Homo sapiens: one gene and its partners. The protein of the gene in region 1 interacts with the protein of each later gene in a biochemical or structural test. Each region holds a gene or a part of one and is shown in the gene's direction. Other genes may lie near its edges.

What was found.
Region 2: the proteins of CDH1 (region 1) and FYN form a complex in vitro, tested with the Homo sapiens proteins (one study listed by BioGRID).
Region 3: of the proteins of CDH1 (region 1) and MKI67, one has a biochemical effect on the other in vitro, tested with the Homo sapiens proteins (one study listed by BioGRID).

Annotation. Positions count from the first base shown.
Region 1 is NC_000016.10:68,817,239-68,820,893, forward strand, and holds part of CDH1 (cadherin-1 isoform 1 preproprotein), read left to right. Parts: intron 1-2,041; coding exon 2,042-2,187; intron 2,188-3,655.
Region 2 is NC_000006.12:111,863,447-111,867,101, reverse strand, and holds part of FYN (tyrosine-protein kinase Fyn), read left to right. Parts: intron 1-3,655. UniProt on the Homo sapiens protein: Non-receptor tyrosine-protein kinase that plays a role in many biological processes including regulation of cell growth and survival, cell adhesion, integrin-mediated signaling, cytoskeletal remodeling, cell motility, immune response and axon guidance.
Region 3 is NC_000010.11:128,099,277-128,102,563, reverse strand, and holds part of MKI67 (proliferation marker protein Ki-67), read left to right. Parts: intron 1-862; coding exon 863-1,306; intron 1,307-3,287. UniProt on the Homo sapiens protein: Protein that associates with the surface of mitotic chromosomes and acts both as a chromosome repellent during early mitosis and chromosome attractant during late mitosis.

The DNA of each region.
Region 1 (3,655 bases):
AATAGTGCAGTCCACCCACAGGTCAACAGGGCAACCTGCATCTCCAGATGTTCATGACAGGAGAGGAGGTGGCATGTTGCCACCATTTAGGAACTACTGTATTGTTTGGGGGAGCTGGTCTGCAGGAGTCTGCTTTTAAAAATAAATAAGGATTATAGTAATCATTGCTTCAGCAAGAATCATCCACAGATGCCAAATCCATTGGGTGAAAATTAGTTGCTGAACAAGATATTCTCAAATTATCTACCTGCAGATTATAGGTTAATCATGCAGTGAAAAAAGGCACCTTTGCTGTGAAGAAATCTGGTGGCCTTTCCCTTATCCAAGTGATCAAAGTTATCAATAGAAGCACAGACAGACATCATGTGCCTCCCAGTGTCCTGCACTAGGGAGGCCACAGCATCACCTCTGTCCTGTTCTTGCCCCCACCGACCCCTGAAATGGATTACCTGAATCTAAATTTTGAGGAATAATCAGACAAACCCAAGTTAAGGGGCATGCTACAAAACAACGGCCAGCACATTTCAAAAATGTCAGTGACAGAAAAGAAAGACCTAAGGAAGAGCCATGCCAACGAAAGGCCATATTGGATCCTGAATCCAGAAGGGTGCAAGGTTGCTATAAAGGACATTTTTGGAAAATCTGACAATTCGAATATGCACCATATATTCGACAATAGAATTCTATCAAAGTTTTGTTTCCTAAAATTGAAAATCAAGACTGGTCACGGTGGCTCACACCTGCAATCCCAGTGCTTTGGGAGGCCGAGATGGGTGGATCATCTGAGGTCAGGAGATCGAGACTATCCTGGCTAACATGGTGAAACCTCGTCTCTACTAAAAATACAAAAAATTAGCCGGGCGTGGTGGCGGGTGCCTGTAGACCCAGCTATTCAGGAGGCTGGGGCAGGAGAATGGCATGAACCTGGGAGGTGGAGCTTGCAGTGAGCTGAGATCACGCCACTGTACTCCAGCCTGGGCGACAGAACGAGACTCTGTCCCAAAAAAAAAAAAAAAGAAAAGAAAAAAAAAGAAAATCAAATTGGGGTTATATAACAGAATGCCTTTGTTCTTAGGAGATAACACATTGACATATTTATAAGTAAAGGAACATGACTTCTGCAATTTATTTGCAGATGGTTCAGCAGAACAAGAAATTATGTAGGCGTGTGTCAATATAGACAGAGCAGATGTGGCAAAGTATTAACAATGAGTAAACTCAGGTGAAGAGTTCATGGATGGTCATCATACTATTATAGTAACTTGTCTGTTGTATTGTTGGTTTTCTTGGTTTTCTTTTTTTTTTTTTTTTTTTAAAGACGGAGTTTCGGCCGGGCGCGGTGGCTCACGCCTGTAATCCCAGCACTTTGGGAGGCCGAGACGTGCGGATCATGAGGTCAGGAGATCGAGACCATCCTGGCTAAAACGGTGTAAACCGCGTCTCAACTAACAATACAAAAAAATTAGCCGGGCGTGATGGCGGGCGCCTCTAGTCCCAGCTACTCCGGAGGCTGAGGCAGAAGAATGGTGTGAACCCAGGAGGTGGAGCTTGCAGCGAGCCGACATCGCGCCACTGCACTCCAGCTTGGGCTACAGAGCAAGACTCCGTCTCAAAAAAAAAAAAAAAAAAAAAGAAAGAAAGGGTTTCACTTTTGTTGCCCAGGCTGGAGTGCAGTGGTGCAATCTCGGCTCACTGCAACCTCCATCTCCCAGGTTCAAACGATTCTCCTGCCTCACCCTCCCCAGTAGCTGGGATTACAGGCGTGTGCCACCACACCCAGCTAATTTTTGTATTTTTAGTAGAGACAGGGTTTCACCATGTTGACCAGGCTGGTCTCAAACCCCTGACCTCAGGTGATCTGCCCACCTCAGCCTCCCAAAGTGTTGGGATTACAGGCATGAGCCACCGCGACCGGCCTATTGTTGGTTTTCAAAATAAAAACGTTGGAAGTAACCATATAACTGAAGAAGCGCTTAAGCCGTTTTCAGCTACATGTTGTTTGCTGGTCCTATTCTAAAAGCCAGAGCTTGTCCCCGTTCAGATATCGGATTTGGAGAGACACTGCCAACTGGCTGGAGATTAATCCGGACACTGGTGCCATTTCCACTCGGGCTGAGCTGGACAGGGAGGATTTTGAGCACGTGAAGAACAGCACGTACACAGCCCTAATCATAGCTACAGACAATGGTAAGGGGGCCTCATCTGAGCCTTTGCTGCCTCGACCTCCTAGCTAGTTCAGTTCCTTGCCCCTCCCTTCTTTTGGAGGGAAGAGTTCATTCTTTTTCTTTTATCCTTTTTGTTTGCTGGATTGATTTGTATAAATGTATGGAGTACAAGGGTAATTTTGTTACATGCATAGATGTGTAGTGGTAAAGTCAGGGCTTTTAGGGTATCCGTCACCCAAATAACATGCATTGTACCCATTAAGTAATTGTTCATCATCTACCCCCTCCCACCCCTTGGACCCTTCCCAGCTGCCATTGTCTATCATTCCACAATCTACATCCATGTGTACACATTATCGAACTCCGACTTCTAAGTGAGAACATGCAGTATTTCTCCTTATATGTCTGATTCGTTTCACTTGAGACAATGGCCTCCAGTTTCATCCATGTTGCTGCAAAAGATTTCTCTTTTATTCTTAAACAAAGGCATTCTTATTATCAAAAATTCAAGTGGGCTGGGCACGGTGACTCACACCTGTAATCCCAGCACTTAGAGAGGCTGAGGTGGGAGGATCACTTGAGCCCAGGAGTTCAAGACCAGCCTGGGTAACATGGCAAAACCCTGTCTCTACAAAAAGTACATAAATTAGCTGAGTGTGTTGGTGAGCACCTGTAGGCCCAGCTACTCAGAAGGCTGAAGTGGTAGGATTGCTTGAGTCTGAAAGGTGGAGGCTGCAGTGAGCCAAGATTGCGCCACTGCTCTCCATCCTGGGCAACAGAGCAAGACTCTGTCTCCAAAAAAAAAATTGTTTTTTCAAGTAATTTTGGTCAAACAGAACTTACTTTTCACTACTCACTCTTTATTCCTTCCCTAAGGGAACCAGGTAATGATGGTTTACAATCCATTTCCAAAGCTTAATACTTGTGTGACCTTGGATTTGCTGTTTAATTTTTTTTTTTTTTTTGAGACAGAGTCTTGCTCTGTCACCCAGGCTGGAGTGCAGTGGTGCAATCTTGGCTCACTGCAGCTTCCGCCTCCCAGGTTCAAGCAATTGTCCTACCTCAGCCTCCCAAGTAGCTGGGATTACAGGTGTGCACCACCACGCCCAGCTAATTTTTTGTATTTTTAGTAGAAACGGGGTTTCACCATATTGGCCAAGCTGGTCTTGAACTCCTGACCTTGTGATCTGCCCACCTTGGCCTCCCAGAGTGCTGGGATTACAGGTGTGAGCCACCGTGCCTGGCCTGCTGTTTAATTTTTATGTCCCTCAATTCCTTTACCTGAAAAATGTTAATACCCATGTGGGTGAAATTAGTTAGGTGTTAAATCAGTTAGGTGTGGGTCCTTCCAGACTGCTTCTGTGTATTTAAATACATTTATAGGCTGGGTGCTAGGGTCACACCTGTAATCCCAACACTTTGGGGGTCTGAGGTGGGAGATGGCTTGAGGCCAGGAGTTCAAGACTAGCCTGGGCAACATACTGCCCATA
Region 2 (3,655 bases), on another chromosome or scaffold:
GTGGAGTAGAAAGAGCAGAAAGGGCAGAGAGCAAGCCCAGGAACAGAGGAGGAGTCAGGCCCAGAATGGGAGAGGAGCCTGCGGAGTACTAGACCAGCTTCAGAGTTGAGCAACATAAAGAACAAAAAATGCAGTTGGATTTAGCACTGAAGATATCTGAACCTGCCCAAAGCAGCATCAGGAGAACTAGAGGGGGAGAAGTCTAGAAATCTGTTGCTCCCCAGCCAGGGTAAAAACACATATCAAAGCCTGTAGAACATACAACCATGAAGGACTCTTGCGGTTTTTCATGGGCACAGGCCATGGAATCTTAGAGATCATGTAGTCAACATGTTCATTTTACTCGTGAGGAAAAATGAAGTTAAATGAAGAGGTTAAGCAACTTGTCCAAGATGGCAAAGTCACCAGGTTTCACACCTCTCAGCCCAGGTGTGTGGTGTGGTTAAGAGCATGGGGTTGGGGCCGGGCACGGGGGCTCACGCCTGTAATCCCAGCACTTTGGGAAGCCAAGGCAGGTGGATCACCTGAGGTCAGGAGTTCAAGACCAGCCTGGCCAACACGGCGAAACCTTGTCTCTACTAAAAATACAAAAATTAGCCCGGTGTGGTGGCACAGGCCTGTAATCCCAGCTACTTGGGAGCCTGAGGCAGGCGAATCGCTTGAGCCTGGGAGGCAGAGGTTGCAGTGAGCTGAGATTGTGCCACTGCATTCCATCCTGGGCGAGAGAGTGAGGCTCTGTCTCAAAACAAAAGAAAACAAAACAAAAGCATGAGGTTGGGGTAGGGTCCGGGTTTGACCCTTTCCAGCTGTGTGGGCTGGGCCAAGTTACCTGGTCTCTCTGTGACTCCTTTTCTTCATCTTTAAATGGAGATAGTAGTTCCTGCCTCAGAGGGTTGCTGTGAGGATTCAGTGAGTTAATACATGTCAAATATTCAGAACAGTGTCCTACACATAGGAAAAGCTATGTGTTTGCTGCTGTTGTTAATCCATATGTATGTGTGTATGTGTATATATACACATATGACATACATGCTTTAGGGAAGGGATGATGACAATATATTGTGTGTATGTAAGGAAACTTTGAATATTTTAGAAAGAGATTTGGGTGATTGTCGGTTCTGAATCAAAAATTGTTAGAAAAGTTGGGAAATTTACTTACATGGTATGATTGAAAACAGCATTTTTAGTAAGAAATGCAGCACCTTCATTCTTGAGAACGGAAAACATGAAAGCATTCTGACGTTAACCCTGTAAAAGGGTTTCTTTTAGTCAGATAACCAGAATTTTAACCTATTTACAATGGAAATCCCTCGAGTTTGACTTCAGAATGTCATTGTGACTTTTCTAAAGGTAGAATGAACTATAAAGTAAGAAAAAACTATGGGTTATGACTTTCACACATTTGGCTCCTATGAAAAAAGAGTGATTTGTGTTATTTAGAGGACTATAATAATTTTTTTAGTGTTTCTAGTTGAGCAAATCTAATTTTTAGCTACTAAAACACATGAGAAGCCTGAATGGTATTATCCAAATGGACTTGGGTGACATGCAATATAGACAACTTAGGAATAAGTGACACTGTGGACTTGATTAGAACGCAGTAATCCTGGAAGAATATAAATTGAATTGGATTTATGGTCTAATAAAAACGTGGGAGGAAAAGATAATGCTTACTGACTCATGAAACTTTAACAATGTTTGTAAGACTCCGAGTTGTTGTAATATTTGGTTGAGAGCGCTTTCCCATTTGTCTCAGCCTGCTTCCAGAACAGCCTGCTGTGCACCTCCGTCTGGAAGTGAAGCCTGACTTGGGTCTCCTTCTTGGGTATACTTAGGAAGCAGAGATCATCACATACTCTGCCCTTGTAAACCCATGACCTCGAGCAGCACTTGGTTGGTTTAGGCAAATATGTATTGAGTACCTATTAACTGTAAGAGTTTGGGGGAGAAAAAAGTACCATGGGAAAGTCCTAGCTCATTGCTTATTTGCACTCAGAAAGCTTTTTTAGAGGACTACTTGTTTCTGGCCTTGTATTCTCCTTTCTGTGATACTGCAAAAAAGTAGAGAGCATACCACAGCTACCTACTCCTCCCTGAATACACCATAGAAATAATAGCACCTGCCATTTTATTGAACTCGGAGGCATGTGTTAGGTGCTTACATACAGTCATGTACTTAATCATAGCAACTCTAGGAGGCATGTATTATTATACCCATTAGTCAAATGGGGAGACTGAAGCTCAGAGAGGCAAATGGCTCATGGTCACACAGCTAATAACTAGTGAAGCCAGGTCTGTGTGACTGCTAAACTCTTTCCTGCTTTTGCTCCAGAGCTGTGGTTCCTCATTCCCTGCCTCCTTGCCTTTGCTTTGCAGTTACTTCTGTGTCCTGTGTTGCAGGATGCAGAGGCACCTTTACCCACCGTGGAAGTCTCACCCTTTCTGATGACTCCCCTCAAAACCTACTGCCTCTTGAGAAGCCCTCCCATCTCTCTTACCTCTGGGCTCCCAGAGCACCTGATTACCACCTCATCATCATCCTCATCATAGCCTGATTCGTAAGGCTGAGGGAACCAGCTGGGTAGGACAGTGGGGCAGGCACTGGCCTTTCCCACCGACTTGTGAGCTCTTTGGAAGTCAGGGACTCTATTTTATGATTGATTTGTCAACATAACACCCAGCACAATTCTAGGAGGTACTACCATTATTATCCCATTTAAAAGATGGAAAAACTGAGTCACAGAGGCTAAGTGATTTAGTCAGCGTCACAGAGTAAGTGACAGAGCTGGGATCTGAACACAGCAGTCTGGCTCCAACATCTATGTTCTTCACACTAAATTTGCGCCATCTCTTTAATGAGATTGTAAACTGTGAGGGTGGAGGTGGTGCCCAGCAGCTCCCAGCCTAGTATCTCACAGACTCTGCACAGTAAACATCAGCCCTTTTGTTCTCCTGTCCACCCCAGCAGAGTGACAAACAGAATATATTGAACCAGGTCTTATCGCATAATAAGAAAAGAGCACAAATATGCTGAAGATCTCATAGAATGCATATCCCCAGGCCTCATTTGGATTCAGTGGGTATGGGCCAGGCAGGGCTGAACGCTTCTCATCTTTTCTGTATCTGGGAACAACAGTGAGAAGGGAAGAGTCAGCAGGCAGCTCTGGAAGACAAGGAAGGAAGCAAACATAGGGAGTCCCAACTAGAGTAGTGGGAGCAGGCGGAGAAGTGGTAGAAACCATCAGTCAGCAAGAGTCAGAGAGTGCCGAAGCTTGAGAGGGGCCCGGGATCATAAATCCGCACAGAAAGACCTCTTAACTTGTAATTTAAAGGTTTCTAAGTACCTGTGCCTTTTGAATATGCTGGTGGGATTTTATCTGATGAAGTCAAACACTTTCATTTTCTTCAGAGCTTCCATCTTTGAGGTATCCAAAAATAGTAGGCTTTTCATGGAGTTGTATAAGGATTCCATCTGCTTTATATTGAAAAGTAGGGCTTTAATGGAAAATTAAAAATGAGCCAGATCTCCTTTCCCACAACAAAGCCCAGGGCACTTTTCCCAATCCTTTCTTCTTTTAATCCCCAGAAAGTTACTGAATCTGTATTTCTGTGAAATCCTGCCCAATTTAAATTCTACTGAAAAGGCAAATAAACA
Region 3 (3,287 bases), on another chromosome or scaffold:
ACAGCATCACTCAATATCGTCTTGGATAGTTGTGAATTTCTGTGTTATACTTTGCATGTAACCTGACGTTATAAGTGGTTATCCTTTCCCCAGAGGGTTTCCTTTAACACTGAATAACTGCAGGCCATGGTAAAGAATCTTCTTGGGACCTATAGAGGGAATAGACTAATATGGGAAAAGAACTAGTCAAACATGATTAATGCAAACTTAGAAGAGTTTCTCAAAAGCCAAATGAGTAATGTTCATCTTCAAATGTTTAAAAAATTGATCAGAGGATAGGTGGGTGGTTCAGTTCTATGTTCTGGATACTGTCACCAAGACCAGGACTGGGTTAAAAATCCTATCTATGTCACTATTTTAACTATCAGAACAATATCAATAAGGAATGTGTATTCTTGAGAAGGGGAAACTGTCTGGACTGTTAGATAGAGAGGCTCCCACTGCATGCAGAGAAGTTTGGGGAAACTCCAGAAATGGCAATTTCCTGTTCTGCCTTAGCAGTGATGGTTAAAGGAATAGGAATTCATTTACTCCCTGTAAATGAATGAATAACGGACCTTCTTTCTATAATGTAAACTGTAAAAATTAGATTTGATATATATCTTATTAGGCATTGTTATTGAAATTTATCCTGAATTCCTTATTTATAATTTGTCAGCAGAGACAGTCATTTCTCCATAGGAGCAAAGTACCAAGGCATTACCTTGACTATCCTAGATGACAAGTCTCTTAGACAATTCATCAGTGTGTGATTTTCAAATGATTTCTCCTTTTAGGTTACTGTTGATTGTGCTCCCTGTTGAATTTTGAAGTTTGTTTTACTAATTATTGGAATTTTGTGGATGTCTTCTCATTTCTTTAGGGAATATCCCTGCGCTCCAGACGCCAAAATAAGACTGAGGCAGAACAGCAAATAACTGAGGTCTTTGTATTAGCAGAAAGAATAGAAATAAACAGAAATGAAAAGAAGCCCATGAAGACCTCCCCAGAGATGGACATTCAGAATCCAGATGATGGAGCCCGGAAACCCATACCTAGAGACAAAGTCACTGAGAACAAAAGGTGCTTGAGGTCTGCTAGACAGAATGAGAGCTCCCAGCCTAAGGTGGCAGAGGAGAGCGGAGGGCAGAAGAGTGCGAAGGTTCTCATGCAGAATCAGAAAGGGAAAGGAGAAGCAGGAAATTCAGACTCCATGTGCCTGAGATCAAGAAAGACAAAAAGCCAGCCTGCAGCAAGCACTTTGGAGAGCAAATCTGTGCAGAGAGTAACGCGGAGTGTCAAGAGGTGTGCAGAAAATCCAAAGAAGGTAAGCCATTTACTGTTTCCCTGTTTTAAAAGACACAGAATGTTTTGATGTATTTTTTGCCCAAGGTTGCAAAGGCAAACAAAAAGCATTATCTTCAACAGCACTCTGCCAGCTCCCAGTTACATTAATGGAAGGAGCATTATGCTAAGACATAAATTTGGTCATTTTAGTTATATTTTGTTGTGTCTACTTTGGGAATTTCACTTCAAATAGCAAATTCACGTTATGAAGACTTTCTTCAGAAAGAAAAGGAATTTGTCTAGTGGCTAATTTCTGACTGCTTATGATGTACCTCATGATACAATTGTAGGTAGATGTCTTCAGCCTTTCTGTAGTTCAAAATCACCTCTTGAAACAGGAAAATTCTTTTTCCAAAAAAAACTATTGAAACAGAAAAATTTCCAAGGCATTCTTTGGAAAGGCAGAAGGAACAGAAGTTGGGATGTCCCTGAGACACATGCTCACTATGTGAGAGTTCCTGGTCAGTGGGGGATGCGTCTGCCCTCCAACCCTCCTCCAGCCAGAGACTATCTAAGCTAATGAACTTTAAGTGCTACTGAAATCACATCAAGTTGAGCCACTCATAATTACAAGCATGTGGACAAATCCATAAGAATGATTAGATTCCATTAGTGTTCTTCTGGGGAATACTTGGTTTAGCTAAAATAAAAATAGGTTGAATTGCTCCCTTTTTGTGAGCAATTCACAAAAATATAATATAAATTTAATTCTTAGCACACACAAAATTTGGACCTAAAACTACCATATTCTGAGTTCAGCAAACGAAACTCATGTAGCAATAACCTCTTCAGATACAGAATTCTGGCAAGTACAGCTGTCCAGACAGACCCTCTTCGGCACAAACTAGGAAGCTTCAACTGCCAAGAAAAGGAAAGATTCCCAGGTGTCCCCAGTACCTGCTGCATAGCCAGGCAGCCAGTGGAGGGGGAGGGCTTGTGTGTCTGGATGGTGGGCAGGAAGTCCTAGTGGGGAGATGCCCATAGACTGTTCCAGAGAGGGAAGAGGAGAGGCTCAAGAAGGGCACTGATGCCCACACAGGTGTCCTAAGTCAGAGACTGTACTTCTGGGGCAGGCTGGAAGCAGAAGACACCCGACAGTGCCAGACAAGGTCCTAGAAACCACAGGCACACCAGGGACGCAACAGCTGACGTGGGTCAGCACGTTCACCCGTCGAGTCTTACAATAAAACGCAGGCTCCAGGCGCTTACCGAATTCACAGTCTGGAAGGTGCTGCTTCCTCAGAATGAAACCAAAGAAGGGTGAAAGCGAATCTTTTAACTAGGATGATTCCTAAACACAGAGCAACCAGGCCCAAGGCTGAGCCAGGCCTGGTGTGTTCTGCCGGGGGCGTTCCAGCCTCTTCTCACACACAAGCACCCAGGAGACGCCCAACACACACATGCTCCTCTTTGCCGAGCTCTTCGGTGGGTGTCGGTAGTCCTAGAAAATGCATATATAAGATAGATTTTTTCCAGTAAGAAGCTTGTAGCCATGCTTTTCACCATGGTTCCTCTCCCTTAGCCAAGGGGTGAGAACTACTGCAAGAGTAAAGGCCAAGGCAGGTCTCCTGCATGCAAGTTGGGCATGCTTCTGTCTACAGGGGTTCCTTGGTTTAGGAGACCCAAAAGACTTAATCCTGGTTGGATTCACTTTTTCTGAGTGACATTTTTTAGTTTGTGAAAATGTGTGCATCGATGAAGAAATTTTATTATGAATTAGCTTAAAAATGCATTAGGAACTTCTGTATGAAAAGATCACATTATTTAAGTGTAAAAAAACTGCATAATAAAAGCAGTTCAAGTCAAGAAAAACAATGTTAATGGAATATATTTTAAAACTTATTTCCAACCTCAAAATTAATTTTCTGCAACTAAGGACCTGCATAATACCTAGTAAGCCTTTGGGGTTTTGCAGAGGAGGTCGATTCTAAAAATGGGTGTTTAAATTACTTAAGAGTTCT